3 separate regions of the Homo sapiens genome follow, and regions 1 and 3 are each linked to region 2. The links come from fine-mapping of genetic effects on gene expression. A gene starts in region 2. Each other region holds a variant in brackets. All regions are shown on one strand. Distances are between the middles of the regions.

Region 1 (10,564 bases), 26 kb before region 2:
AACAGTAACACAGAAGAAAATACATATTTTTTAAAGGTTAAATTCTAAGCCCTCTGTAATCTCCACTAGAAACATGAGTATGCAGTTCACAACTGAATTTGCCCACTTAGTATCACAAGTGTTGCCTCTGGCAGTTCTTCCAGAATATTAAGAAAAACTCTGAGTTTTCTAAAATAAAAATAGCAGATTCCACTCTTCTGTCTGATGGGAAAGGTATCTACTAGTTTGTCATCTCTCTTAAGGGCCTAGAAAATTAATTTGGGTGGAGGAACACACAATGAGTAAATTTGGTTTGTTTCTCAACCTTCAAGTACTCAAGAAAGATGCACAGGGATGCATCAACAAAGTAATAAGATTATACACATTTTGGATCTTATATCTTTGAGTGAGTGTCAGTCTTCAGAAGAGTCACCTTATAAGAACTGTCCACTCATTTTCATGATGCTCAGCAGACTCCACAGATTCTTCTTTCGTAATAAACTTCTGGGGAAATCTATTTTACTACATGATAGTAACGCCTTATGTTAAGGAAGAACCTTAACTTTTGACACAACTTAGTATCTTGCTCACTTAAACAGCTCTGAACTACTATCAAATCTTTATGAGTAAAAGCATGTGATAGATACTGAAATTGAAATAGGACCTCATCACTGTAGCACACATGTAGCTGTGTAGTTTTCTGTGATGATTATTGAGGAAATTATACTTGTTTAGCTGGATTTTTTTGAAAAAATTATGTGTAAACAACAACAGCAAAAGCCTGTATTTTTAAAATCTGGAAGACAATAGCAGTGAAATATTTCAGAATAGCTCTTGAAGTTTCCCAGTTAAGCCATTTGAACTTATGTGTTGGCCTATGAAATTTGAAAATCTGATTTGATGAATTACTGGAAGAACTATGTTATTTAAAGGCATCAAATAGCCACTTAGTTTAAAAATGTGCTCATGATTACATTTCAGAATCTTTCTTAGAAAGACAATTATTGTAATAGATGCTGTTAGTGCCCCCACATACATCCTTTTTACCAGGCCTGTATACCAGGCCCCCGGGGCTCTCAGGGTCAGCTACTATGGTCTTTTCTCCAGAGGACTACCCTCATTGAAAGGGAGCCACCTCACTTGGTACTATGTGGGAGGCTGTCCTTTCCCTCTGGAGACAGGCCCCACCCAACAACAGACTGATGAATACAAAAGAATTCCTTTGCCTCTCTGGAGCCACTCACACTCCAGAGCTCCCGGTGGGATGAGGTGGAAGCTAGGCTTCAGCAAACCCATCTCTTTGCGTGGCTTTTCCTGATGGTTTAGTCTGTTTCTCTCTCGCTCACTCACTTCCAGGTTTCAACGGAGAGTGTTCCTTCAATAAATTAACAGGCCAAAAGAGCCCACTGCAAGCTCTACAACTACAAAACCCACCCCAAGACAATTATGATCCTGTATAATAAAAGCAGTTTAAACTCTGAAGCAATATTTACATAAAAAGCAAATACGGTAGACACCACACTACCTTGACAGGATGAAGATTCGTTGTGGTGATAATTTTGTGCAGCGGGCCTGCCAACTTTGGGGGCAGTTTTGGCTCTTTATCCAGTCCCTGGGGCTTAGTGTAATAATCCAGTCTCTCTCGAGGAAAGAAATTGTTGATTATGGTCACACAATCATGTTGACCTTTTCATAGAAAAATAGAAAAGTTGTAGTTTTAGTATTAAAAATAACACATCTGGTTTTTAAAATTAATTATGTTGCTATTTTTGTGATGTAAACATGCACCAATATCTTTATTTTTCAGGAAAGGAGAGTAGAGGAGGAGGAGGAGAGATAAAATATTTTAGAGAACATTTATAAACATTCCTTGTAAAGTTGATAAACAATCTTTGAAAGACACAGAATCCAAAATACATACGAAGATTATGTGGATTACAAAAGAAAGCACTGCTCAACTTGTAAGAGACCTTAAGTATTTTCTAACAGTTGCTTGTAAGTTAAATGTCTCTTCTTCCCAGCCTACGCAAATGATGCTCATGTTTCCCTAATCACATCCAGTTGTATTTACACAAAATTTAAATTTACTCCATATAAAGTATTGTTCTTACTATAATGATAATATTAAACTAAACCCCCTCCCCCTTATCCCCTACCCCCTAAATTTGAGAAAAGCTTGCCCTCTTTGTGAAATGTAGAGAAAAGGCTTTCGCTCCCATAAGCTTGGAATCCACATCGTGGCTTTGCATAGAATTCCAAGCCACTTCTCTAAGCCATCTCTAGTTAAAAATGGTTCTATGAAAGCAAATTCTTCCCTAGCGAAGCTGCTGGTTTGCAAGTGTGCTCCTGCGGCGCCCCCCCCTCCCTAGCTCCCTCTCCACTACCTCTCTGGAGCAAAGCAGTGGCCACTCTGGGCAAGCAGGCAGAAGCCACAGGGCACACAGGAGGGCGGGCGCAGGCTCTTCCTGGATCTCCGGAGGAGACTTCTTCCTCCGCTCTGCCTGATGAGGGCTGGGGGACCAGCGGAGGCGCGCCTGGGGAGAGCGTGCAGACGCCATGGCCCCCGCTCCCGGAGAGTGGTTCCCCCTGGGTAGCCTGCATGGCCCCTGCCTGCTTGTGCTTGGTCCTGGGAGCGCCTGCTTGATCCTGCCGACAACAGGTGACCTGCGTGGGGATGGCACTGTGGGCCAGCTGGACGCTGGCGCTTGAGGCTGGCAGAGGGCTCTGCTTGTCCCTGAAAGTTCCTGGGAGAACCCAGGAGTGGCAGGCTTCATCCTTGTGCCTCAGCTGGTTTGCTGACCAAACCAGCTTAATGTCTCAATTAAATGGTTGAATACTTTTGATGAGACATTTTAGAACTTTTTTTTTTTATGGGAACACCTATCTTTTTATTGAAGCTCGATGTAGATTTTGTTTTAAGGAAGCATATGCAGTTTGTCTTCATCTTCCCTGGTTTCTTCATACACATTTCTAAATTTCCCCACAGTTACCTGTGTTGATTTTGATGCTGTATTCATAACCCACTTGCATTAGATTTGCTTGGTTGAATGTCATTTTTCTCTCTTCTTGAAGATTCTATAAGGAGAGTGATAATTTTCTAAAGTAATTAATTAATGTCTTAATTGAGACATTAAATTTTCTTCTTCCACTGATCCAGGACCCTATCAGCTTTACCTGACTTCCTGGGAGGTACAGAACAAGGTACGTATGGGGATCCAGCAATTCTGAAGACTACGCCATGCCTCCAACAGAGGGCTTCTTGGGTTGAAAGTGTGTGGGTAACATTTACCATAACAATAACTACCACAACTACAGCTAATAAATGCACTTAAGCAGATTCAATTATAATATATAAATAGACTTTCAAGAGCCGCAGAGAGATTCAAATTTTAAAAATTAACAGGCAAACTGAAAGAGGTGATCCTGGTTACTATTGAGAACTAAACTAGTAACACAGAGGATGAAGGGCAGGCATGGTGGCTCATGCCTATAATCCCAGCACTTTGGGAGGCTGAGGCAGGAGGATTGCTTAAGCCCAGGAGGTGCAGACCAGCCTGGGTAACACAGCACAAACCCGTTTCTACAAATAATTTAAAAAATTAGCTGGATACAGTGGTATGTGCCTGTAGTCCCAGCTACTTGGGATACTAAGGCAGGAGGATTGCTTGGGGCCAGGAGTTGGAGGCTACAGTGAGCGTGTTTTTTTTTTTTTTTTTTTTTTTTGGGTGAGACAGAGTCTGGCTCTGTTGCCCAGGCTGTAGTGCAGTCACGTGATCTTGGCTCACTGCAACCTCTGCCTCCTGGATTCAAGCAATTCTCCTGACTCAGCTTCCCAAGTAGCTGAGACTACAGGTGTGTGCCACCACACCTGGCTAATCTATTTTGTATTTTCAGATGGGGTTTCACTATGTTTGCCAGGCTGGTCTCAAACTCCTGACCTCAGGTGATCTGCCTGCCTTAGCCTCCCAAAGTGCTGGGATTACAGGCGTGAGCCACCATGCCCAGCCAAAGCTGCAGTGAGTTTTGATCACACCACTGCATTCAAGCCTGGGTAACAGACACCCTGTTTCAACAAAACAAACAAAAAAGATCGAGTGGATGAAATATCTCAAAACAGAAAAATTCAGATATAGAAATCATTATACAACAGATGAAAGAGCTAAAGAACAAATCCAGGAAATCTAATAGTGAAAATTAACAGACATCTCAAAGGAAAAAAAGGAATAGATGGAGAATTAAACAAATGATAAAAGAAAACTTCCCTGATTTGAAAAGAGAATTTAATAGTGATCACAATACCATTTTTGGTACTCTATGCTTTTATTAAGTACCAGAACACCCAATTTCTTTCTTTTTGGGGGGATTCGGGGAGGTGGGTATTTCTTTTATTTCTTTCCCCAGTACATACGTCTTGAAAAGTCAAACAGTAGCAGTCTATATTAAAAATGTGAAATGAGCCAAGGTGCTCTGTTTAGAAAATGATCACCTCTCCTTCCAGAATCTTCAAGAGAGAAAAATGACATTCAACCAAGCAAATCTAATGCAAGTGGGTTATGAACACAGTTATCAAAATCAACCCAAGTAATTGTGAGGAAATTTACAACTGTATGTGAAGAAACCAGAGAAGATGAAGACAAACCGCACATGCTTCCTTAAAACAAAATCTACATCCAGCTTCAATAAAAAGATAGGTGTTTCCACACACACACACAAAAGTTCCAAAATAGCTCATCAAAAGTACTGAACCAGACATATGAAGACTTGAAGATAAAGGAGTCAGAGAAAAATAAGGAATTAGCTTATAACTGTATCTTCTCATCAGTCCTCCAACTAGTACAATTAGGAAAAGCAGGCAGCAGGTAGAAATATCTGTACATAAAAATAATTGCTACATAACAAAGATACTGTCACAAGACTAAGGATTTCTTTATTATACCTTTTTTTTTTTTTTTGAGATGGAGTTTTGCTCTTTTTGCCCAGGCTAGAGTGCAATGGCGCGATCTTGGCTCACCGCAACCTCCGCCTCCTAGGCTCAAGGGATTCTCCTGCCTCAGCCTCCCGAGTAGCTGGGATTACAGGTGCCTGCCACCACGCCCAACTAATTTTGTATTTTTTAGTAGAGGCGGGGTTTCTCCATGTTCATCAGGCTGGTCTC[G/A]AACTCCCAACCTCAGGTGATCCGCCCGCCTTGGCCTCCCAAAGTGCTGGGATTACAGGCGTGAGCTACTGTGCCCGGCCTAATTATACCTTTTTAAAAAGAAAAAATAGTATTACTTTACCTTTTTTTCCAGATTAAGGTTTTTCATTTTAGGTAATGCTTATTTTGATATTTTATTTTAATTAATCTGCTAATAACATATTTGAATAATATGTTTAAAGTTTATCTTTGTAAATACTTAATCATTTAGGTTTAAATGTTTGTAATTGAAATTCTTAAATATTTTACTAGTTTTAAATTTATAAATTCTGAATATACATAAATAAAATAATACTACTAATATAGAAAATAAATGCTGCAGGTGGAGAAGCCAGTACATCATTTTGCTCCCATATTACAATCACTAGATTTGAGTCCTCTAGACTTACAGGGCTCACTGAGTGTGATTAATAGGAACACACACATACAACAAGACGTATCCTTTTCAAATTTTTTACTTTCAAGGATAAACTGAAAATCAAATGCTCTTCCAGAATGAGAAATGTAAAGTTTACAATGGAAAGTAAGTTGAATTCTCATTTGCAAAACCAGAACTTAGAAAACTGTAGAATAACTTCTATATGTCGGAGAGAAAAGAACTCTGATATGAGTCAGAAAGCTAGGCAAAATATGACTCACATTTCAGAAAGAAAGGTATTAATAGTTTTGTCATGATGGGTGTCAAAGAATATACAACCTACGTAACCCATTTGAAAAGGTCCTATAACCAAAATCTAAATGAGAACAGAGATCTAAAGACAAAAATGCAAAAATGGAGACAAAGGGGAGGAGAGAGAGGACAGTAAGAGAGTGAGTTCATATGAGTGGGTGAAGATAGATGACAGGCAAATCACACAGCTGGTGGTATGGATTACTGAAAGAGAAGCAACACCCTGTCAATGACACTCTCATTACAGCTTGTGCTAAAAATACTAGACTCTCTCAGCAAAGTCCACAGCTACAGGTATGATTGGCACAGGTTTTGAGGAAGTATCAGAGAAGGCAGAAAGGAAAGACCTGTGGCCTGACAAGGCAAAAACAGAGAATGTGGAGAAATAAATGAAGTATAAGGATTTCATCTTATAAAGTTGCTAAATGGGTAAATATGGGGCCTTGGGGATGGGGTATGTGGTACTGTACAGTTTTGACCAGCCAATCACTTTAGGGAAATACATGTGTACACACACACACACACACACACACACACACACAGATGCATGCACAAACAATAGTCAAGTAAAATAAAGAGTAAAAATGAGGTAAAAGAGGAGGAATGCAACCACATATATCAGTAATTACATTAAATATACATAAGCTAAATACCTGTTAAGAGAGGGAAACTAACATTTTAGATTACAAAACAGAACCCACCTATATGTTTATAAGTTATACTACTTAAATGAAATGATAAAGATTGAAAATAACAGATGAGCAAACAGATCATTGACAAAAAAAGGAATTATGAATAGCTGTAATATCAGTAAAAGTAGAACTAAAAGAATTCAACAAGAAAAAGAGTGACATTATACAATGATAAAACCAATAGCAATATATTAAAAGTGAAAAGCTAAAAATATTTTCATTAAAAACAGGAAAAAGACATGCCAATTATCACTATTATTTCTTCTTACTTGGCCCGAAGCAAATTCAAATAGAAATCAAGATAAAGTTTAATAGCTAGAAAACGCAGTAAACTGTAATAAAAATAAGAAAAAAATACAGAAATCAATAGCTTTTCTCTTTATTATCCATAACCAGCTGGAAGTGACTGAGTGTGGAGGTGGTAGTGCAAATTCTTACCATGTGGACAGTAACCACAAATTACTAAGAAATAAATTTTGAAAGAAAGGATTGATATGAAGGAACCAATTAAATATTACTGAAAGACCAAAAGTCAGTCCCCTCCCCTAAAAGAAATGTAAAAGTGTACTGTGTAATTGGATGGAAAGTCCTAACCTCATACAAATGTTAATTCTCTGCAAATAATTATATAATCATTTAGTAAAAGAGAATTTAACTTACCACAAAGGTGGTATTTCAATTTAGTAGGAAAATGTTAGCTGGTGTAATAAATGGTGCCATCACAATTAGCTATATATCTGGGGGGAAATGAACTCTAAACAAATAAATTCTAGATGTACCAAAAAAATCATAAAAAATAACTGAAGGATATTTAGGAGAATACTTATGTAACTCCTGGTCAAGAGGCCCACTTTTAGCAAAACAAGAAACACGGAAGCTATAAAAGAAAAAATATGACTACTTAAAAATAAATTTCCTGCCGGGCACAGTGGTTCATGCCTGTAATCCTAAGGACTTTGGGAGGTGGGACGATCACCTAAGGTCAAGAGTTCGAGACCAGCCTGGCCAACATGGCTAAGCCCCATCTCTACTAAAAATACAACAATTAGCTGGGTGTGGTGGCACATACCTGTAGTCCCAGCTACATGGGAGGCTGAGGCAGGAGAATCGTTTGAACCCAGGAGGTGGAGGTTGCAGTGAGCCGAGATTATGCCACTGCACTCCAGCCTGGGTGACAGAGTGAGACTCCATCTCAAAAAAATAAATAAATAAATAAATAAATAAATTTCCTATGGTAAAGGTCTCCATAAAGTTAAAAAAGAAGAAGAAGAAAGAAGGAAGAAGAAGAAGAGGAAGAGGAGGAGGAAGAAGAGGAATAAAAAGAAGAAGAAGAAGGAGGAGGAGGAGGAAGAGGAGGACTGGCATAAAATATTTGAAACACATTTGTTAGATAATGGATTTGTATGCATAAAGCTCCTCAAAGCAATAACAAAGGGCATCCCCCCACAAAAAAATGAATAAAGAGTATAAGTGGGTAATCCACAAAAGTGAAAATACAAATTACCAACAACAGAAGTGCTTAATTTCATAAATAATGAGGGGAAAGTAAGTTCACAATGTACCATCTTTTTAACTATCAGAGTGGCAAAAATCAAAGAATGGTAATACTCAGCTCTGATGAGGATATTACTGTGAATTACTATGCCCTTTTGGAAAGGAATCTAGACTTACATTAAAATTAAAACTCTAGGCTGGTCGTGGTGGCTGTAATCCCAGCACTTTGGGAGGCCGAGGCGGGCAGATCACAAGGTCAGGAGTTCAAGACCAGCCTGACCAACATGGTGAAACCCCATCTCTACTAAAAATACAAAAAAAATTAGCTAGGCGTGGTGGCGCACACCTATAATCCCAGCTAGTTGGGAGGCTGAGGCAGGAGAATCACTTGAACCCGGGAGGCGGAGGTTGCAATGAGCTGAGGTTGGGCCACTGCACTCCAGCCTGGGCGACAGGGCGAGACTCCATCTCAAAAATAAATGAATAAATAAATAAATAAATAAATAAATAAATAAATAAAAATAAAAACTCTATATCCTTTGTCTCAGCAATTTTACTTCTAAGAAATACTTTAGAGATATTAAAGTTCTAACATGTAAAAAATATTCAAGTACTAACTTGTAAAACATAGAAAATCAAGGATGATTATTACATTATTTGTAGAAAAGTGGTTAAAAAACTGTAAAATCTGTCAATAAGGGAGAGCTAACTGAACTGTGGAACATCTATATCATGGAGTATCATATAGCTGTTGAAGGAAATGAATTACACCTACTGAGATGGGAGGAACTTCCATGATGTATTAGTAAGTGAAGAAAACAAGCTACAAGGAATATCTGCTGTGTGATGGGTGGCATTTTTAAAAAATGACAAAAATCTTATGTATGTATGTACGCATGTATACATACTGATCCACTTGAAGGAAACAAAAAGGGGAGAATGAGCTTTTTTAAAGGCTAATTATTTGGAAAATACAGTAACAACTGGAAGGGTGCAATGTAATTTTCTGTCTGTGAAATCAGTTAAATATATTAAAATGGAATGAAAACATTACTCTTATTTTAGGATAGGATTGCAAACAATTTTTACTGTAGTAAAAATTTTGTTAGTATTGTAGTGTTAAGAAAAAGAAAGGAGCATTGTGTTAATGCCTGAAAGAAGAGACTCCTCCATTTCCAGACCTGTGATCTTGGGAAATTTTTTTACCTGTATCTGAGCAATATTTTGTTACATTGTGGATATAATGAAAACTTGTACAGTTAAATAGAAGTTCAGAGATCACCTAATTCCCCTGCTTCTTTGCATACAGATCAGAAAACTGAGGCCTATGGAGGTAAAGGAATTTGCCCGTGATCCTATAACTAATTATCAGCACACATGAACTAAAGTTCAAGTCTCCAGATTCCTACTTTAGTGTTCTTTCCCCCTGCAGTGACACCCTCAAAATTAGCTCAGAACTGAGATGGGGCAACTTGGGGCCTGTACACACGGGAGTTAAAATATTTCTCCGAAGCTTACACAAGGCCATACCTTTCTCAAGTCCTTTTGAAATGAAAATAAGGATACTTCTTCTAACAGAAAAAGCTGTCATAAAGCAACTGAGTGTCTGGCTTAATCAATGGCAGCTTCTATTAGTAGTTTCAAGAAAATGTTCTAATAAAATTTAACATAATATTCAGTTACTATCCTCCACACCTAATTTACACTGTATCTGAACCTGACTTCTCTCAAAACCCCCTTGAATTGGACAGATCCTCCTCTTCTATGTATTTTTATGGAGCTCTGAAGTTCTACCTTGGAGTATGTGTTTTCGCACCATTTGTCATTGCTATTACCCTTTAAGTGCCAAGAAAGTATGAACAGCCTGTCTTGTCACTATAACCAAGACACCTACAGTGATGCTTGCTTTATAGGTTGTGAACATTATTTGTTTAATGAATTATTAGTCCCTATACGGCCACTTACTGCACTCCCAATAAATCAGACGTTGCTCTTTGCTTTTCTCTCAGTGGACTCTCTTCACCACCAATTCAATGGTGTCAAAATACCAAAGAACAAGAATTCACTCCCACTCTTTCCTTACATTATGTCAAGCAATAGGATTAACATGCCAAGAATTATTGGGCACACAAAATAAACGTCTGTGGTTGATGAGAATGATAACGAAGTAGTTGTATATTATTATCAAGTACTCTTTCCTAAGAGTTATGTCATTGTTGTAATAATTATTAACAACAGTAACTAATACCATTTATTTAGTGTTACATGGAAAGTTCAAGTCTATCACCTCTTTTAATCCTCACAATAACCCTGTAACATTTTACCATGAGGAAACTGAAGGTCAGAATTATTAAGTACTTTGCTATCACGTGGCACAGCCAAAATTTAACTTGGGATTACTGACTTCTCGGTTAGCATTCTTAAACATTAGGGTTAGCTACTTCCATCAGAGACATAAAATATACATGTTATAAGCATTTGTGAGCAATTACAATGGCCCCACTACTCTTTGTATTTGAAAAAGTGGAAATTCGA
Region 2 (10,980 bases):
CGTAGTCCTAGCTACTCAGGAGGTTGAGACAGGAGAATTGCTTGAACCCAGGAGGAGGAGGTTGCAGTGAGTCAAGATCGCGCCACTGCACTCCAGCTTGGGCGACAAGAGCGAGACTCTGTCTCAAAAAAATAAGTAAATAAATAAATAAAAGTAAATAAAAAGACCTGTAAAACTCTCAGTTTCCTTATCTATGAAATAAGGATAACAATATCCATCCCACAGTTATCTGAGGAGTGTCCTAATGTGGAGCACATATAAGCCTTTATTAGATCTTCTTTTTATTTTGTATTCAGAGCAGCACAATATAATTCATTGTAACATTTCTAATATCTAGATCGGGAACACGGGTCTCTACCAAAGACAAGAAGATGCAGCCAAAACAAACAGAACAGGAGAAACAAACATTCTGTTTTCAGCAATTCATCACACAACCATGAGATTCAAACACGTATAGATTTCAATCGTTATTCATTATTATTGTTTTAATTTTTTATAGATACAGGGCCTTCCTCCATCGCCCAAGCTGGAGTGCAGTGGCATGATCATGGCTCACTGCAGCCTTGAATTCCTGGGTTCAAGCAATCCTCCTGCCTCAGACTCTTGAGGTGCTAGGACTACAGGTGCACGCCACCGCACCCAGCTAATTTTTACATTTTTTGTAACAACGGGGTCTCACTATATTGAGACCCAGGCTGGTGGCAAACTCCTGGGTCCAAGTGATCCTCTTGGATCCTCCCAAAGTGCAGAGGGGTCACTCTACAGGCATGAGCCACTATGTCCAGCTGGATTGCAATCATTATTTATTGGAAGCCACGAAAACGGATATTTTAAGGAATATATAATCAAGTTAAGGATTTAGAAATCTATTTGGCTTTGTTAGTTGTTATAGTGTTTACGTATAAGTAAAATCATGTAAAAATGTTTAAAGTGCCTTAATTTTAAAACAAGAACATATGGATATAGATTTTGATATAATCATAGATATAAAGCTATAAATATATTTTAAAAGTGAAACCCCATCTCTACTAAAAAGACAAAAATTAGCCGGGCGCGGTGGTGCACGCCTGTAATCCCAGCTACTCAGTAGGCTGAGGCAGGAGAATTGCTTGAACTTGGGAGGCAGAGGTTGCAGTGAGCCGAGAGCGCACCATTGCATTCCAGCCTGGGTGACAGGGTGAGACCCTGTCTCACACACAGACACACACACACACACACATAGTGGAGACTTCTAATTATAACATGCATTTTGAAATCGTGAATTTGTGCGATGTTTCTAAAAGGTCTCCTACTCATATCTATTTTTAGACTTTGTAAAAAAATGATCTTAAATTAGTATTACAGAGCACTGTATAAAATTGGGAGTATCTAAAAGAGCTGTTGCTGTGAAAATGAAGACAATGAAGCCCATATAGGTTGCATAACCTGTCCAGCCATCCAACTAATGGTAACCATATATTTTAATTTTTTCTTTGAACTCTGTACTATAATTGGTTATAAGCAGACTTGAATGTTTCTCAACCATAAAGACACCAGAAGTATTATTAACGACACAGGACCTTAGAACAGGATCTTATTTCAATAGTCCCAAATTGGAAACAACAATTGGGCATCAATGGGAATGGATGCACAAATAGTAGTATATCCTTCCACTGGAAATAAAAGAAGAAAATAAGCTACATACTATTGGTACACATAATAAATATGAACCCCAAAATCATAATGTTGAATGAAAGAAGCCAGCCCCCCCTCAAAAAAAGGATACTTATTGTATGATTCTACTAATATAAAATTCTAGAATAGAGAAATCTAATCAACAGAGGCAGAGATCTGTTAGTGGTTGCCTGCAGATGGGGGTGAAGTTAGTGACAGATCACAAAGAGGCATAAGGACTTTTTAGGGGGTGATGAAGATGTTCATTATGTTGATCTTACTGATGGTTTCACAGATGTATGTTTAAATCAAAACTGATTAAAAAGTGTGTACTACCTGTAATATGTGCAATTTATTGTATCTCAATAGTTGGTAAGAAAAAGCCTTATTATCCAAACTTGTTTCATAGCTCCTTTACACAGATATGAAAAAAAAAAAGGAAGTATAATACTTTCTTGTTAGCAACAGTAAGCCCAGGAATTTCAGGTACTAAATAAGAGAAGTAATGTGAAAATTATCTAGCTCATAGCCTTAAAAAAGGTTTAATTTATTTCATAATAGTGCTTGCTCTGAGATTAATGAAAAAGGTATCAAAGCTTAGAAGAATGGGTAACTCTACAAGTCATATAAGCCAGTTAAACACAGTTCAGTGATTTCAATTTCCTCTTACATACTGTTAAATGAATGCTGTCATTAACTATGATTTAAATGGGTATGTTGGAAACAGATTTTCATTTTCATCTGGAACTTCTTGGCATTCTAATAAATAAAAAGCCCCACTTAGAGTCTGTCTTTCTGGAGAGCAGTGGCTGGCAGATGGGAATCACTTAAATATTTGCCGAGTTTATTTCAGATTGACCAAGATGCCAGGCTAGACTTTGCTGAAAAGTTGTTAGTTCAAAGTACTAGAACTTATTGTCTCATCTAGAGTTTTTCAAAGTTGAAAAACGTATGAAAGAAAAAAAAAAAAACTCACTTCACCCACTTTAAAAAAAATGCCTCTTTTTGGCACAAATATAAACTTTGCTTATGGCCTTTCTTCAACTATAAAATAAAAATTTACTTTAAATTTAATGCACACAGAACTACAAAATCAGTAACATTTAAAACTGAGTTAACTTGACAGATGTTGTTTTGCTAGAACTAAATGACCTCTCAAAGTGAATATTGTATGGACTGCTATGGTACTGTTTCATGTTTTGTTTAGTTTGTTTTTAGGTACAGCCTGTTTATTACCTATGGGCCCTGTGATACCTCTGCTCTGCCACTTTCTGCCACTTACCTGTTTGACACTAAGTTTCCTAACTTCCCAGTTCCTCAGTTGCCTTGCCTATAAAGTGAAGATTACTATATTTATCACAAACACAAGCAGTATTTCGAATGCTTTAACTATACTAACTACTTTCATCCCCATAACAACGTTGTGAGGTGGGTATTATTATTATTCCTATTTTTCACACAGAGGACTTGAGGCTCAGGAAAAGTCACTTGCCCAAAGGCCACATCACCAGTAAATGAGTTAGAATTTCAAACCAGACCTGCATGGTTAACCACTATCCCATGCTGTCTCTCATACTGTCATAGCTTAAAATTAATTCCTAGCTCATCCAAATTAAATGCATTAATATATGTAAAGTACTTAAAATTATGTGTGGCTTGCAATAACAGTCAATAAACGTTGGCTATGGTTGTTTTTCTCATATCTCCCATTACTTTTCTTTATGAGTGCAAGTGATGTCCCACAGACCTTCATTTGACAAGAATGCATCACATACTAGGTCCACATCAGTTCTTTTCTCATTGGCATGGTCCAATGAAAGCGATGAAAGCATCAGTGCACTCATGCAACTTGATGCACCGTGTGAGCCCAGAAATATCACAGCACTAACCAGAATAAATGCACATTAATTCAGGTTTATATAATCTTCAAAATAAATACTGATGGACACCTGAGAATGTATCCAAGGAATCCCTTCTCCCCTCTCAAAGACTCAATTTATAAAACTGCTCACTATTTTTCACTTTTAAGAGATCACATGATGGGCCAGGCCCAGTGGCTCATGCCTGTAATCCCAGCACTTAGGGAGGCCGAGGCAGGAGGATCACTTGAGCCCAGGAGTTCGAGAGCAGCCTGGGCAACATAGGGAGACCCCCACCACCCCATCTCTACAAAAAAAAAAAAAAAATCTTTCTAAAGTAGCCGGGCATGGTGGCTCGCACCTGTAGTCCCAGCCACTAGGGAGGTGGAGGCTGCAGAGAGCTGCAACTCCAGCCTGGGTGAAGAGTGAGATCCTGTCTCAAACAAACGAGAGAGAGAGAGAAAGAGACAGCGAGAGCGAGAGAGAGAGAGGACATGTACTAGCTCTGTCCTGCCTAAAAGAATTTTTGTCCCTGGTGGATTGTGAATTGATCCTTTGTCTCCTTTTTGCCCAGCACAGTACCTGGCACACAGCTAGAACTTGCATGTTTGCTTAATTGAATCCCAGAGCCATCAAAGGCAGGGAGAAATTACCTAGAGACAGGAAGAACTGAAAGACTGAAATGCCAAATAGGTCAGCAAGAACCATGCAGTACAACAATCTAAACTCTAACCCAAATCCCCAAATTCCAGGCAAAGAACACATCATTGATAGATATAGCTGTGACTGACTTAGAATAGTTGAGATCAGATCGGGTGGGCTCAGCTCATCAGCACCTGTTGAGTTCAAACCGGAATTTTTTCTCCTTCGCATGTGGAGTTTCCTTGTCGCTATGAAGAATAAATCTGCCTTATTCTCTAGGATTCCACATTTCAGCCTGGCTACTAAGTAAATAAAACTGGAAACTGGGAAGCCTTATGCTGCAATGACTGGCATCTCTGCCATTCGAGGACAAACATGGCTATATTATTATTGAGTTTAAAATCACCACATTAATTGCCCGGAGTCGCACGCATCACCATCCCTGCACCGTGAGGGTGCAGAAGAAGCATGCAGTCACGCTGATGTCACCTGCCAGGTAACGGGACTCGGCAGGGAACTCCTCTGGGACGTCCACTCGGGGACTCCGGGGAAATATGGCTTCTGGCTCGTCCTCGGGGCTCCCCGCTGGGACTCAGCACTGCGGAAGTGGGGCACGCCTTGGGGGAGTGGACAAGAAAGCGCGAAGGAGCGCGATTAGAAGGTCTCATCTGTGCAACGTGGGCCGAGGGGTGGGTGTGGAGGCCTCGCCAATTTCCTTGTCTCTCTAGGGTTCCTGAGGCTGTCGGGGCTTCTGGAAGCCAGGGAGGCCCTGGATACGGAAGTCTCAATGCAGCAAATTACAGACCTAGTTCTGTACCCTTATGAAGAACCCCTCTCCCTAAGGGCGCCCTCCACTCCCAAGCGGGGGCGGGGATCGGCAAAGGATCCAGATCATTCGGCCTGCGGAAGTCTAAAGGGTCATTTAGACACCCGCCTAAGAACCTGAAACTACCAGGACTGACCGCGGTCAAAATCCCTCGGGAGCAGTGAAGAATTCACACACTGGGGTCCACACCCCGGGAAGCTCGCATTAACCTAAGGCGGGGCGTGGAAATCCGTACGTTTCCAAAAGCGGATTTAGAGGCCGAGCCTCTGTAACTACCCCTCTTGTCCCAGCACTGCTTCTGCCTCCCCACCTCTCCGCCCCTGCAACCTTTCCCAGACCAAAGGGAGAAACGCTCTTTCCCGGTTCCAGGCTGCAAACCTTGCAGAACCGCAGCCAAAGGTCACCCAGGCCAGGAGCGCCCCCCGGGCTCCGCCACGCCCCCCGGCCAGGCTGGCCGCGGCCGCGTCGCAGCCCAGCACCCGTACCTTTCCCGATGACTTCCAGTAGCTCCTTCTCCTCCTGGGTCAGCTCGCCTTTCTTTATGTGAACCATTGCTCCCGCCAGCTTGAAGGTTATTCCCTTTCTTAGGGAGTATTAAAAAAGAAACGATGCGTCTGTATTGGGAACGCCAGCCGCAATGAGGCAACTTGAGACCAAGACACTGAGTAGCCAACCGCGGAAACGCTTCGCTTCTCTCCTCCCTCCCGCGGGCTGGCGGACAGCGGGCGAGCTCGGGCGAGCCAGGCGGACGGTCTCCGCAGGCCCTGCGGCGGTCACCGCCTGCCGCCTGTCATTGGCCCTGCCGAGGAGGAGGAGCCGCAGGAGGCGGTAGCGAGAGATCGCCATTGGAGCAACCTGGGAGGACAAAACCAAATGCAGAAAGCTGGAGGGGGGAATTAAATTCCTCCTACACGTTCCGCTCCCCTATCCTGTCCGGTTCAAATATTTCGCCACATGTAATATTGAAAATTCTACAGCTGGCAGTTATGTGCTCAGCGACGGCTTTCTGGGGCATGCAGAGGCCCCAGGTTGTCGCCGTACCCCCACCATTCCCCCGGGAGTGGCGCAGTCTGGGCGGGGGCGGTCTAGGAGACGGGGGCGGTACGGGAGGCGGGGCTGCGCCGGGTTCCGTGTGTCTATGTCAATGTGTCTGTCCTTCACTCCTCCATTGTCTGCCGCCACTGCTGCTGCTGCTGCTGCTGCCGCTGCTGCTGCACGAATCGCCGCAGCCCCCAGCCTTGCGCGTCGTCGCTACCTCCTCGGACAGGTGAGAAGCAGCCCAGGTGAGGCAAGGGGCGCCGTGAGGGTTGCGAGAGTAGCGACTGCCGCCCCGCCGGGGTTTCCATCGGGCAGGAGCTGGCGGGGAGGAAGCATGTGCCTCCTGGGGCGGCTTCCTGCCTCGCGGTGGAGAAGCCCCCGCTCCACCTCATCATCACGGCGCGTACGGGGTATCAGTGCCCTGGGATGAAGACCTCCGACTCGCAACGTTTGGCCGCCTCGGGAGACCCTGGGACCGCGGGCGGGCGGGCGGGGGCCAGCCACGCGGTGGGAAGTGGCGGGTGCACATGGTCTCGTGCGTGGCACCGCCAGATGCGGCTCCCGGGGAGGCTGGGGCCGGGGCTCTGGGCTAGGTAGGGGTCGCAAGGACAGCGCCCCATTACTAGCGAGTCAGTGAGAACAGACTCGGGAGAAGGTAGTTTTTACGCTGGTGATCCTCGCCCTCCCCACTACTTGTCATCTCTTTGGCCTCTGTGGAAGCTGTAGAAGAAAACCTGATCGCCCAATGTTGCTTGTTAAAGATGTTTGGAAACAATTTACACTTGCACTAATACTTCGTTTATGAGAGACAGCCTGTGGGAGGGGGAAGGAAGGGCTTCTTTGCTCTGCTAGAGTTCTCGGTTCTCTTTGTAACTCAGATCTTGAGATTTATGGAAATAGGGAGTGGAGGGTGGGGAGGTTGGAGAGGGCGGAGATTAAATTGGTGTTGCTGCCTATATATAGCCTTAGATTAGCCTCTTAATCCAACCTTCATTCAACTGTAATATGTAGCCTGGAGCTTCGACCATAGGTAGATGGGGGTAAATACAAGTGTGTATTTCAGAATAAGATTTGCTTGCTAAAATGCGGGAATCAGTCATTTCTCCAGGGTGCAGATTTATATTTACATCATCAATGAAAGTTTCTTTGGAAATTAGTGTTTATGTTTTACTGTTGTTTCCCTACAGAGTAGTATTGATGTTTCTCTCAATATGTGTGTCAAAGAGACGTGTATGTGTCAAAGAGAAATATTTGAGTAATTATGTAGGTGGTTTTTGTTAAGCATCCCCAGGACCACTGTTTCTTCTCATAGCGCCATACGAAAAGCGAAATGCATTTTCCTCTGGCCTTAGGCATTTATTTTGCGTGAAGCTTTCACTAACATCTGAAATCTCCTGGAATATGTTTATCATTATTTCCTGCCTTTAGCAAAAATCTTTCCTAAACTCCAGCTGTTTTTCCCCCCTAAAGCTTCAGCATTAAAGACTGGGACAGATCTGAGCCAGAACATCTTACATGAAAATGGTTTGAAATTATTCATCTCAGTGTATAACAAAGATACTTTTGTTGGATGATGCTTTAATAATGATGTGGCTGTTCAAGCAAGTAGTAAGGCTCCTGAGAGTGACCAATCTTTTGTAATGCTGTTAGTTCAGAGTTACAATTGATTTATAACATAGTATCATGCGGAAGAAACCCACAAACCTAAAAAAACAGTTGAGTGGTAACCTCCTGGAACATGTGATTTAGCATCTTACCAGCAGATGCATACACATAATTGGGTACTTCATTGCTAGTATTTCCATCTCTTGTGCCAAATCTGGGCCATGGTTACTTGAAGGTCACACCTGTTTGTCTCACTGGGGTTGTCAGTTCCTCGAGGATAGCAGCTTACTATCTATTTTCTTGATGCCTTATGACACTTGGTTGGTATTTAGTGCTCTCTGAATACATGACCAGTGAATTTAGAGACAATAACGTTGAAAGAGAATCTAACATCTACCTAGAAATGCAAATAAATCATGTTCAGTTTACATTTCTAGAAACAGATTCATAATGGGTACTGTTCATTAGATGGATTGATTACATTAGTAGTTTTGTATGGTGTAAATATTTAATGTAGGGATAAGATTAGATAATGAGCATATTAAAACAGATTCACATCAAAGAAGTTTTATTGATAATAAGATAGCTACTTCATATTGAGTATTTAGTCTGTGCTAGATATTCTACCAGATGCTTTGCATAGAATTATTCTAGTGTTATGACAACCCAGGAATGAGCCAATATTATACCCACTTTGCAAATAAGAGGACAGAAAGTAAGGGAAATAATTTGCCCACAATCCCATATTAGGAAGTGTCAAGTCAGAATTGGAATAATGATTTCTGAAATGTTTGAAATGTTGTATGTGTCCTCTCATATCTACCACTCTAGAGCTATTGCAATGCATCTTAAGTAGCCTGCTTCTCTCTCACCTGTCTCCATCTAGCTAATTCAGGGAACTACCAGTTCAATAAACATTGAGCACCCATCATTCTTTGAATGGCTCTCTGCTGGCCACAGAATAGAGGGCTGGGTCTGGCCTGGAAGGTTCCAATCCATCCATGGTCTCAGCAGGCATTTCCAGTCATCTGGGCCCTCCCACACACTGGGCTCTAAGGTCACCACTCTGCTTGTTCCCCAACCTGCCGGTAATTTCCACCCCTTTGTTCCTGCTTTTCTCCTCCTCTGAATGATTTCCCTTCCCTTTTCACTGAATCTCCTCTCCAGATCTGATGAACTATTCAACTTTCCAGACACAATTTAAACAAAACCTCTTTTCTTCAGCTTTTGTGTTCATCTCTCCCTCTCTATCCAGTAAGGGAAATATACATGCTAGTAAATACATTTATTCATGTCTCTTGGCAAGGGTTATAAGTAAAATCTTTGTACATGGAGGATATTGATATGCAACATGGCTACTGGTATCATTGCTGGCAGCCTTTAATTCTCTCTTCTTATGGATTCTAGCGACCCCTCTTTTACCGCCCCCCTAAATTGACATCATTGCTTCTTCATCTGAATCTCCATGAAAATACCTAAAACAAGCACTTTCTCATCGCATTCTATTATAGTTATTATTAATCTGTTTGGTCCCTTCTCATTCTACAGTATACATTAACTAGGTCAAATTTATCTTTGTTTCTCAGGTTTAACCCAGTGTCTTGCACCTAGTGTATGCTCAGTACAAGCTGAGTTGAATTCAGTTTGATTTCTAAGTTATTTTAGGTGGATTTGTTTTCCTACTTGACTAATCCTTCCTGGCAATGTGAGGTGAGGTGGCACTAAGCACGCACAATCATAACCAGAGGCAGAAAGTCTTTAAATGTTTTGGATCTCAAGCTTCTTGACATTCTGATGAATGCTATCAACCAAGAAAAATTGTTCTTGTGCACATGTTACAAATTTGGCATGCCATTCTTAGATTTCCCCATTAAAGACCCTGATTTCCAGCTCTCTACATTAGGAGAATGCTGCCTTTTTGTTGCATTTTTGAGTATTACATCTTTCAGGGTACTGTTTGTCTTGACATTTGACTTTTTTTCCTTAGACTTAGGTATCTTTATTGACTGGATATTTGATAATAAGAAATTTTGATTTTTTTAAGTTGGAAGTAGATTACGGTTATATTTTTAAAAGATTACTTATCTTTTAGAGATAGGAACAGAATTATTTCAGAACTGGATGAGAAGACAGCTGAGATTTGCTTTAATATAATTCTGTGACAGAAAGGAAGAGAGACTGAATGAGAATATAAATGAGATAAAATTGACTATGTTAACAGTTGAAGATGGGTGATGAGTATATTCACTTGATTATACTGTTCTCTCTACTTTTGGATATATTTGAGATTTTCCATAATGAAGTTTTTAAAAAGAAAATTTGGAAGTATTACAGCCTCTAAGAAATCTTTTTTTTTTAAACACAACATAAGAAAGTAATATAAATACAAATGTTCTTTTTTCTATACTTGGAGTTTCGCTTATGTGATTATTCATTTAAGTGTTAAAACAGTTACACCTAAATCTGCAAAGAACTGTCTTGTGAACAATGCGTTTCCATAAACATTTGACATCACATTTTAACTTCTCCAAAAAGTAAAAGGTTGGTGGCATTACTCAGTGCTTGTAGAACAAATTGATGAATATCTTACTGGTAGTTAATCTTCATCTTTTTTGAAAAGAAAATTCTGAAGAAGGGGTACAGATACATTTAGTTTAACTGAGAAAATCAAGAGGTGAATGAAGTGGAGATACTGATGTTCTTCTGTGCGTCATAATCCAACTCAGAAGGCATTCCAAAAAAAAAGAGTACCAAAACTGTTTCGAGCAATGTCAGCACTGATAGGATAAGTATTAGTCTAGGAAAATCAGGAGCAGGCCCAGGACAGGGTGTGACTGGTAGGTTCTTACTCAGTGTTTGCTTAGCTGAATACTTAATCTGACACCTACTTTCTAATTTGTGCAATTTTTTAAACTGATTTTTTGATCTTTACAATTTTTTATTGTGTTTTAGATATATTAAATGTCCTTTATAACATGTCATCCTAGACTTTGGGATTTTACAAGAATATTTAATTAATATGAAATCCACCAATCTTAGCAGGTCATAAACAAGAATACTTTTCATTCTTAACTCACTCATTTCTGTGTATTGAGGCCATGGCGCTCTTTAGCAAGTATCTTTTGGGCAGTTAGGTGCCGAGTGGAATGATTTGCCCCGTTCTAAATTTGGCGTGTATTAAGTGAAGAGTGCCAAAATTGTTCAGGTAGTCATATTTGTAAACTATCTATTTTGAAAATAAAGATTTGAATAACTCATTGAATGAACCATTCTTTAAGGTTAAATGCCAAAAAGATAATGTTCTCATTATTCTTTCTTGATTTTTAGCAATAGGTGTTTCCATTGATGTTTTTTAAG
Region 3 (10,980 bases), 39 kb before region 2:
CTTATTCTCCCTCAATAGTGTGTTAGTAATGAACATTTGTTACTTTCTGTCCTTAGCACATAGAATAAAAAAGTTTGGTCAAGAAAACAAGAGAAGGCATGGCAGTCAGAAAGCCTGACTATTCTCTTAAGGATAAATGGTTTAATTGTGTACAAACCATTTAATTCCACTGAGAGTATATCTCAACCCAGTAGTAAAGCGGATATGGTTCCTTGAGAGATGGAGGCAGAAATGCCTGGTATCAGAATAACCGAGGCATCTTTTTCAAATTACATGCACTCCCCCAGAACATATGATACATTCTCTGGAATGAGGCATGAGGGTGGGGGCAGTTCTCCTCTCCAATCTGATAATCACTGCTGAAGCAACTCACTATTTCTGATGAAAATGGGTCACAAAACCTCAAGAGGGATGGAGAAAAAAAAATACAAAATTCACTGCTATGACACTTGTAGAAATTTGATCTGTATATTAGATCTGCAATTTAATGAATGATTTATAAATATACTCTGTAATTTCACCTGTAGTTCTGAAATTTAATTAAGGAATTTAAAGGCTTCCACCCTTAAAATCTTCTGGTAGCCATTAGTGGAAATTTAATTAATTCCCTTATTCAAAGACTTTAAAATCCTTCATGAGCAGAATATAAGTTAATACCCATTAAGGGTCCCATTGTTCCAGGGCAGTAACCTAAGCTAGAATGTAAAATATGAAATAAGCTACATCCCTCAGAATTTGATGTCTCTGTTTTCCAGTGATGTCCAGGCTGACTATATCCTAAGAACTTAAAAACGGGACACATTAAAATTTAAATGTGATTCTTACATCGGTCACTCCTGAGCTCCTATGGCTTCCAGAGAAGACGCAGTTTCAGTGTGTTAAGATCACCTATCATCTCTCTCTCCACTAAAAAGCAGAGTGAACTCGGTTTTTATATACATACGGTTTTCCTCTTGTCTCTTTTCTTTGGCAGCCTCCAACTGTTGCTTTTCGTAAATGTCCTTCAGATTCTTACAGATTTTCTTATGAGTAAACCAGTGTGTTTTCTGGCAGGTTTGATCACAATATATTACCTGAAAGCAATTGTTGGTTTATTTTCATTTCCAGAGCTTGGGTTGTATGATTTCCTAACTATGACTAAACCAAGAACTAAGCTATAAAAATGTCATTTTCCATACTTTATTTTAAAACCATAATATGTGGTTGATATAGTTTGGATGTTGTCCCCTCTAAATCTCATACTGAATTGTGATCCCAAATGTTGGAGGTGGGGCCTAGTGGGAGGTGATAGGATCATGGGGGCGGTTTTCTCATGAACAGTTTAGCACCCTTCCCTTGGTGCTGTCCTCACAATACTGAGTGAGTTCTTACAAGATCTGGTTGTTCAAAAGTATGTGGCAACTCCCCCACCTCCTCTTGCTCCAGCTCCTGCCATGTGACATGCCTGCTCCCCCTTCACCTTCCACCATAATTGAAGGCTTCCTGAGACCTCACCAGAAGCTGAGCAGATGCCCATGCCATGCTTCCTGTATACCTTCAGAACCGTGAGCCCATTAAACCTCTTTTCTTTATAAATGACCCAGTCTCAAGTATTTCTTTATAGCAACGTAAGAACGGCCTAACACAGTATCTTTGTATTGATTTAGATTTATAGTTTGTAGCTTTACTTTAAAACAATAATGAATATATAACAAACAGTCTACCAAAGACTTTAGCAAATAGCTTATTATGAACCCGCTATGTGCCAGAATTGGTACAGTACAATGACAAGGAAGATAGAGTTGTCCCAAAGGTAGCTAGCATCAAGAAAAAGAAAGATATGGAAGAAGGGAGAGAGGCAGGCACCTAAATACATAATTTCTTAACACAGTACAGGATGTAAGAGTGATGGAGGCATAGAGGAAGCAGCAACTCACTCTAGCTGTGGTGAGTCGAGGTAGACAGAAAAATGGGAAAGAAGAATTCTAACTGGAGAAAATATCTAGTACAAAAATGCAGGAACAGGGAAGTGAATGATATGTTCAAGAACAGCAAGAAGTTTTTGTAAATGGCCTTATATTTTTGCAAGTAGGGGTGGAAAGGAGATGGGAATGAATGTTATTAAACACTTACTGTATGCCAAGCACTGTGGTAGGCCCTTATACATATATTGTATTATTGGCCCCAATTCTTCATTCATCCTTGCATTCATACACTTTCTCACATGATTTCAAAGTTCTCTGCACTGAAGGGGAGGAGACTTGACTTCAGATTGGGCCATGTAATTTGTTTCAACCAACAGCATGAAACAACATGGCAATTTCAAGGCTAGTCCTTGAGAGGTCTTCTGTGTTTCTACCTGCCCATGTGTACCTTTGCTATTGCCATGACAACATGCTCAGCCTAGCCTGCTAGTACAAGAAGGATGAGAGTCACATGGAGCACAACTGCCCCAGCTGAGAACAGCCAACCACAACTGTGAGAGAAAGACTAAATGATTATCATTTTAAGCACTGAGTTTGAGTGTGTTTTTATAAGCAGTAATAATTAACCAATATAAATAGTTTGATTTAATTCTGGAATTTCATTTAATTCAGGAAACAGGTTCAGAGAAGTAAGTCATTAAACAAGATGAAGCTGAAGAAGTAGGTCACAGCAGATTATAATGGGTTTCATACAACATGCTGGAGAATTTCAACCTTAAAGTCAACAGGCAGTTGATGCTACCTATGGGATTAAGTGAATGTACGGACACATGCATGTGTCCAGTATCTGGATATGAGAACAACACAATCAGATATGCCTTTTACAAAGATAATTCTGGCAGAAGGGGGCAGTACAGTCCATAGGGATTAAAGACTGGTAACAGTCAGAAACTATAGTTTTACAAGGATATGTTGATGAAGACACTGTCATTAAAGTCAACATCAGAAGAGTAAAGAATGTATATTTATGAACTGTCCTATTCTAGGTTTCACATCTGCACCAGCCTTGGTCTCGTGCCCCACGGAAAACCTTTCTCTTATTTTCTCATATTCATTCATTCATATCCTTTCTTTCCATGAGGTGATCAGCAAAGAGGCAAAGGAAGACTGGCAGTTTAGCAGAAGACAGACACAGTAAAGAACTATATTGATCCTATTAATTCTTTTCCAAAACTACTTTTTAAGTATTAAATAGAATATTTTCGTTACTAGAATTTATTAGAAAACTAATGTCCACTCTTACAGAATATTAAAACTCAATCATCAGCTTGGCTGCATCTAAACCAGAGGTCAATGAAATAAAAAGAACTCCATTCTTACCATTTTGCAAACTGAACATCTTTTACTTGCTCCCTTTTCTCCACAGGTAGTGCAAAATTCCACATCCACAAAACCCACCTGGCCAGTGATGGCTTGGGTAAGGACGGAGAATGCAGTGGGATCAGAACCCTAGAGTGGGCATGAAGAGGAGAAAAAACAAATTCTGAAATCACCATGGAAACACTACAGAGGTATCAGCCCACGGACACTGCCGTCCTACAATGTGACACAAAAAGGAAGAAATCATTAAGGCTATAGATTACACAGGCTTTAAGACAAAATGACAAAAATCTTTTAGAATATACCATTTTCTGTACAAAACATATGAAAAGTCAGTCATATGTCCAGATAATTAAAGAGAAAAAAACACCCTTAATCTAGAAAAAAAGTATTTTTCCAATAAGGATAATTCAGTAAGCCCATAGCGTTTCAGATTTAGGACAATAACTCCAGAGCAGAATTTTTTTCTGAGAACTGACATCCAGAAAATATTCATATTCCATGAGACAATTATAGGGCACATCAAAAATGTTTAACTGTCTTAATTCTGAAAAGTTTAGTACAATCTAAGTATTTTAAAGACAATATATTTAAACTCATTTACTTGATGTTGGCTTGTAATTCAAATAAATTATCACCATTATAATTGGTATGTTCCAAATTTGTTAAGAAACACACATGCAGCAATTGAATCAAAGTATTAAGAAAAACCAAATGTGTGAAACTTACTACTAGTGGGCAATGGAAAATTAAAATAGGTTAAAAAATATTTATAATTTTTATCTATTTTTATTTTTTTGAGATGGAGTCTCTGTCACCCGGCTGGAGGTGCAGTGGCTCGATCTTGGCTCACTGCAACCTCCGCCTCCCAGGTTCAAGCAATTCTCCTGCCTCAGCCTCCTCAGTAGCTGGGATTGCAGGCGCCCGCCACTACGCCCAGCTAATTTTTTGTACTTTTTTTTTTTTTTTTTTTTTTTTTTGAGACGGAGCCTCGCTCTGTCGCCCAGGCTAGAGTGCAGTGGTGTGATCTCTGCTCACTGCAAGCTTTGCTTCCTGGCTTCATGCCATTCTCCTGCCTCAGCCTCCCAACTAGCTGGGACTACAGGCACCCGCCACCACGCC[C/T]GGCTAATTTTTTTGTATTTTTAGTAGAGATGGGGTTTCACCGTGTCAGCCAGGATGGTCTTGATCTCCTGACCTTGTGATCTGCCTGCCTTGGCCTCCCAAAGTGCTGGGATTACAGGTGTGAGCCACCACACCTGGCCAATATTTTGTAATTTTAGTAGAGACAGGATTTCACCATGTTGGCCAGGCTGGTCTCAAACTCCTGACCTCGTGGTTCGCCCGCCTTGGCTTCCCAAAGTGCTGGGACTACAGGCATGAGCCACCGCGCCTGGCCTATAAACTTTTTTTACAAAGAAAATTATAAGGGGCTGGGTGTGGTGGCTAGCGCCTGTAATCCCAGTACTGTGCGAGGCCAAGGCAGGCAGATCATTTGAGGTTAGGAGTTTGAGAGCAGCCTGACCAACTTGGTGAAGCCCCGACTCTACTGAAAATACAAAAATTAGCCAGGCATGGTGGCACGCCTGTAGTCCCAGCTACTTGGGAGGCTGAGGCAGAAGGATCACCTGAGTCCGGGAGGCAGAGGTTGCAGTAAGCCGAGATCGTGTCACTACACTCCAGCCTTGGTGACAGTGCAAGACCTTGTATTTAAAAAAAAAAAAATTATAAGGGTAAGCATTTATCTGTCTGAGACGATGCTACTAAAACCTATTTAGCAAAAAATAATCACAGCGTTTCTATTTTTCTTACCTACTCCTAATAGTTCTTTGTTCTGAGTTTTTCAAATTTGTTCATTTGTTCCAAACCAGCATTTTGACACTCTTTATAATTTTCATTTTCATTTGAGTATTTGCTTTTTCTTCCTAAGAATATTTGTTTTTATATTATCTTACCAACTGTACATAATAGAGGTTTAAAAATATCACCTGGTAACAATGTCCTACACTGTTCTGTATACTCAAGATAGTCAAAGAAAATATTCAAAGATTCAAGAAGTATTTTAAAAGTAGCACTCATTTTGAAACTACCATGTTCTTCTTGAATACAAATAATAATGACTGGGTCTGCTTTCACATGAAAGTGCTACGAATTCTCTTTTGTGCTGAGCCTTGAGACAGGCAGAAGCCAGAGTTCCACAGCAGCAGAGGGAACCAAAAGCTGAGCAGGAGGGCCCAGGCATTAGCACTGTCAGAAAACAACACAGTGAAGCTCACAGCAGCCAGCCCTGAGAACCATCGTATGCGGGGAAAAGGTTGGGCATCACTTCAGAGGGTTAGAACTTGCAGAATATGAAAACCAATTAGGCAGTAAACAATGGCTGTGATACGCACAATCACAGGCATTTGGGATGAAGTCTTCCAGACAGAAGAACATAAAACTCTCAAAGAACAAAAATGTTTAAAGAAAAGTCTTTCTAAAATGCATTAAATACTATCTTAACTTTATTATAAACCTTTTCTTGATGACTCAGATCACTGGGATAAACATTAATCATTATACTCTAGGCCGGGTACGGTGGCTCACGCCTGTAATCTCAGCACTTTGGGAGGCCAAGGCGGGCAGATCACTTGAGGTCAGGAGTTCAAGATCAGCCTGGCCAACATGGTGAAAACCCGTCTTTACTAAAAATGCAGAAACATTAGTCGGGCATGGTGGTGTGTGCCTGTAGTCCCAGCTACTCGGGAGGCTGAGACATGAGAATCGCTTGAACCCGGAAGACTGAGGTTGTAATGAGCTGAGATTGCGCCACTGCACTCCAGCCTGGGTAACAAAACAAGACCCCCCTCAATAAATAAATAAAAATAATAATAATTATACTCTATAAACTCTAATTACATTATTCTATTATATGGAGCTAGGATAACTTGTTGACCACAATATTGACCTGCTTTTTTTTTTTTTTTTTTTTTTTAAAGAACTCTGGGTTGCTGTTTTAGTTTTTCTGTTTTTTCCCAGGAAGGTAAAAGGTCAGCAACCATTTGTGAGTGCTGGAAATCCCACATAACAGGTACTGCTAGTTGCTTCTCTGATATCAATTCTCCCAGCTTCCTCAGTAACAGAAGTGTAATTTTGTTCAGAGGAGGAGTGTTTAGAAAAGCCAAAAAAAAAAATTTTCCTGGACTCCTGTGTAGCTAAGGAAAGTCATGTGACACAGGCAGAGGGCTTCTGGGAGAGCTTATGTTTTCCAGATATAGACCCCTTTGCTCTTCCTGCCTGCCTGGGATAGGAATGTGAGCTGGAGGAGGAACATCAAATGCCTCGTAACCATGAGATCATAAGTATGCATATGAGAACCTACACAGCTAAGGAATATTGGAAGGGAAAGATGAGAAAGTGTTTGGGTCCCCAAACTATTTTTAAGTCACTATGCCAGACCTAGTCTGCCTACCTTTGGGCATCTATGTATATGTGAATACATAAACCCTCATCTATTTAATTCATGGTTGGTTGGGCTTTGATATGTGCTGCCAAGACACATTTGTAATTGACAAATCATAATTTGCTAACTTTATTCTTCCAAAAGCATAAACACTAAATAGCCAACTATATTAAAAAGTATGAGTAAAGAAACTCTTGAAAATAGGGGGAGCACACATGAACAAATTAATGCATGAGCTTTATGAGATGGTCTTTTCTGCTCAGGTCTTTCTTGTTTATTTTATGGCTCAGACTAGGTGAATTCTTAATGTACAAAGGAGCATCTGGAGCCCACTTGAAGCCCTGATGTTCCACACTGAGAATGACATAACAACCCAGAGAGAAGGCACAGAGAAGGGAACCAGATTTGCCAGAGGGAGGGAGGAAGCCATGGATGGGACTGGTCTTAGGATCAATTTCTTGCCTGATAGACAAAAGCTGATCAAGTTTTTGATTGAAACGTATAAAAGCATGAATGGGTATAGATAGGGTAAACAAAAACCTATTCAAAATAGAAAAGGTGGCTGGGCGCAGTGGGTCATGCCTGTAATCCCAGCACTTTGGGAAGCCGAGGTGGGTAGATCACCTGAGTCAGGAGTTCGAGACCAACCTGGTCAACATGGTGAAATCCCATCTCTACTAAAAATACAAAAATTAGCTGGGCGTGGTGGCGCGCACCTATAGTCCCAGCCACTCAGGAGGCTGAAGCAGGAGAATCGCTTGAACCTGGGAAATGGAGGTTGCAGTGAGCTGAGATTGTGCCACTGCACTCCAGCCTAGGCGACAGAAACAGACTCTGTCGCAAAATAGAAAAGGCCAAATAAATTAAAATATATGACAAATGAATAGTAAGTCATTTAAATAACAGATAAAGTTAACAAAATACACTTATATAGTGGGTAAGTATAAATAGGTTGTAAGTATGGACATTTTCTAATCAGAGGCATTAAGGTGGATTATAGGAAGCTGAGGCATACTTTGAGATTGTTACCAGGAACCACAATGAGCCTTCCCATGGCTTATCCCACTACATCCCCACTGCCTGGACACTATCCCCCTAGGTGATCAATTCATACTTGCATCTAGTGTATGACTTTGTGCTGATAATTCATATAGCTACAAGTGTACATGTGTGTACCTATATTACATAGTGGATGTACTTAAAATGTAAGTTTCTACCCTAACCATCTACATTTCAACATAGCGACGTCCTGTTTATGAAACTATGAACCATAATAAGGTAAGAAGAGGATCGTGAGATGGGAAATAAATAAACAGGAACAGGTTTGGCAGGCAAACCTATCTCCACCTTTGTTCCTAAAAATATTCTGAAATAATAAAAATAAATATTAAAGAGAACTTGCCTTTAACAATACAATAGGTGGGAATTAGGTTTTACTGATAGAGTCAACTTAGGTAAGAGGAGCCTTACAATTTCAACAGGAGCAATGCTTCGAACCAGCTGCTGGAGGAGTGTAGCTTCACAGTAAGGAAATTTTCTGATACTTTCTCTAATGATCTTTTCTTGATACACTGGAAAGCCATCAGAAGCTCGGCCTTTTAACAAGCTGAAAGATATTTTTTAAAGCGTAATTGGAGTTGAATCACTAAGCATTCTCTCCTAGTTGAACCCAACAGTTTTTAGTAGTTTCTTCTGTTACTTATGATTTTCTTTGTCTCTTCAAATCATGATGACGGGCTCAGTTCAAATTGCTGTTCAACCTATATGTTAGGCTAGGCCTTATAAGGTTTTCCAGCCCATTAAATGAATATGCAAAGGTGACTACCACCATAAAACACACTAAACACTGTTATCAGATTAGCTAGTTACTTATTACCATGTCAGTTATTTGTACTAAGAATGAAAACTCTCATAGAGCCACACCCTTCAGACTTAGTTCCCTTTTCTAGGTAAGGATGCAAGAGAATTTGATCTCTGGTGGTCAGAGAAGCAGCATAACACACAGCTCTCCAAGATACAGTAACAGAGACACCCTGGATGCCATTACAAACCTAGGGCTGCGACCTAGGGCATAAAATATTCTCAAATTTGGACTTGGGCCACTTTCTCGCGGTGTGATCTTACACATGTTATTTAACCTCTCCAAACCTCAGATTCCTCATCTGTAAATTGCTGGTAACAACAAAAACATCACAGTAAAGGATACAGAACTGAATAATCACTCAATATAAGTATAATATTATTCTCTGTTTGTCAAAGACTAAATGTGAGTCCAACAACAGCAATTGCTGCCAAAATGTTTAATTTTGAAACACATAATAATGAGGCTTCATATTAAAAAAAATATTCACTTGAGTGTATTTTATAAACGACATAGTAAAAAGAGTACCTTTTGATCAAGGTGTCCAGTTTATTCTCTCCATCTTTTAAGAAGTTAATGCATTTCTGAAAGATACAGCTTATGTAATGCATCTTCATAGCCAATACTTCATTCATGTCTCTTTGCTTCATACATTTCTCACAAATCAAATCCATCACTCTGTAGCATTTATTCAGGGCTGCTTCTTCTGTCAGCAGAGGATTCTCATTTACAAGCATCACGATCTAGAGGAAATCCCAGTGTACTCAGGTATTAAAGGAGACACTTGTTCATGTACAAATTAGGTAGTCCATTTAGTTGATTTCAAAAGATTACCAAAGAAAGCCTTCCTTAGGATCATGAAGTTATTATGTTATTTGTTAGAATGCAAATTACCCAGAACTTATAGAACTAATATAGAAAGACCCTGAAATAGTGGAATCTCTTGAACTCTGTATATCAAAGTTATAATGTGATCTTCCATCTACCTACACCACAGTGCCAGTATGCCATTCAAGAGCACATGATTTTACAGTCTCTGTTAAATTCACTTTTACTAAAGATAAACATGACAAATTTGTACATTTTACATAAAGAATCAAATCATTGAGCAATAACCACTTTTAGTTAACATTACTCAGCTCTAGAATTTCATGGCTAGGAGAACTACAATTCTCATTAATTCTTATTAAGCACAAGAAAATGAGATTTTTTCAGAATGAAGTCTAAAAATGAAATATGCTTTACTTTCCAATTAACTATATTTCTCTATGGAAATTTTCCTGAAGATGCTTCCAATCATCTACAGTAATGAGAACAGGTCAAAGAGGAAGCCATAAATAACTTTAAAGGGGAAATATTAGAATGATCAAATCTTACACGTTATGAGTCCCACATTTCCTATGTATGCACAGATTATGCTCAAATTTAGTGTAATATGGAGTATTTTTGTATTAGCTTTGTTGTAGGGTAGATTATTTGAAGTAGGTCTGCAAAGGACTGCTGTAAATATCCATGGTGGCATAACAGTAATGTAAACATGAATGTGAGAGTGGCAGGAGGCAGCCAAATGCCTAGAGAGAATAGGGGTGGGTCCTTGGTGAAGCCCCACTTCCAAGCCAAAGACAGTTTAAAGCCTGAAAGCCAAGCTACAAATTAAATCCTTGAACCGGATTGAGAACTTGTCTTCCTGTTTGACTCAATTTCTTCTGATTGATCCCCACCCTTCACCTATTTTACATACACCTACCCTTTCCTAACTGGTTTTCTACACTGTTGTGCCCACCATTGAGTGGTGTCTTCACTTTAACCTTTTTTACATACTCACAAACCAATCAGCATGCACTCCCCTTTCTGAGTCCATAAAAGGACCTGGACCCAGGCACATGGGGCACTTTCCCGCCTTTGGGTAGGGGAACCACCCTGCACTGCGTCTCCTATTTGCTGAGAGCTTTCCTTTCACTTAATAAATTTTACTCCACTCACTCTCCAGTGTCCACCTGTCTAATTCTTCCTGGTTGTAAGACAAGAACTTGGATCTAGCTGAACTAAGGAGCACAAAGACCACAACAAATGTAACAGGGACACAACTGTATGCACAGAGCAGACAGCCAGTCAGTACTTGCTAACCTACCTGTTACAGCTAAATCAATATCCCAGGGACTATACATGTCAGGGAACAACAGGTAGATTTCCTGAATTAGATTCTTTTCTTTAGGCATGAAAAAAGATCATCTATTAGTAAAGCCCATAGCTAGCCCTCTAATTAGAAATTTAACACAGATTAAATGTCCTTGTAAAATTAAACGAATTTCACTTTTTGACATTTATTAGATTTATACACAATCTAGTGTTTTACAAAAATCCAGCACTTAATAATAAGTTATTAGACTTAATGA

Direction of the effects. Positions count from the first base shown, and alleles are read on the strand shown. Sizes are in standard deviations (SD) of each study's normalised expression. Not every link is listed here.
As copies of A replace G in region 1, the expression in prefrontal cortex of the gene that starts at base 5,713 in region 2 goes up (small effect, 0.25 SD a copy in GTEx).

Evidence for each region. PIP is the estimated chance that this variant, and not a neighbour inherited with it, causes the effect. A credible set is the group of variants that fine-mapping cannot tell apart.
Region 1: its variant is the best candidate, but not a certain one, in a credible set for the expression of ANKMY2 in prefrontal cortex (GTEx, PIP 0.83).
Region 3: its variant is the best candidate, but not a certain one, in a credible set for the expression of ANKMY2 in whole blood (TOPMed, PIP 0.86).

The regions. Positions count from the first base shown.
Region 1 is chr7:16,614,240-16,624,803 of GRCh38, forward strand. ANKMY2 (ankyrin repeat and MYND domain containing 2) reads right to left here. Exons shown (of 10, transcript NM_020319.3): 5 at 1,505-1,665. LOC105375169 (a long non-coding RNA gene) reads left to right here. Exons shown (of 5, transcript XR_007060226.1): 3 at 1,787-1,940; 4 at 3,137-3,180. Among named protein-coding and RNA genes, the nearest start is that of ANKMY2, 26 kb to the right of the region's middle. The variant G/A (reference allele first, on the strand shown) is at 5,135.
Region 2 is chr7:16,640,042-16,651,021 of GRCh38, forward strand. It overlaps ANKMY2 (ankyrin repeat and MYND domain containing 2), which reads right to left and starts at 5,713. Exons shown (of 10, transcript NM_020319.3): 1 at 5,466-5,713. The coding sequence starts at 5,532. BZW2 (basic leucine zipper and W2 domains 2) reads left to right here and starts at 6,140. Exons shown (of 12, transcript NM_014038.3): 1 at 6,140-6,247. RefSeq lists enhancers at 5,840-6,119, 8,314-8,825.
Region 3 is chr7:16,601,437-16,612,416 of GRCh38, forward strand. ANKMY2 (ankyrin repeat and MYND domain containing 2) reads right to left here. Exons shown (of 10, transcript NM_020319.3): 6 at 9,113-9,327; 7 at 8,194-8,329; 8 at 3,285-3,413; 9 at 944-1,073. It overlaps LOC105375169 (a long non-coding RNA gene), which reads left to right and starts at 3,389. Exons shown (of 5, transcript XR_007060226.1): 1 at 3,389-3,475. The variant C/T (reference allele first, on the strand shown) is at 4,407.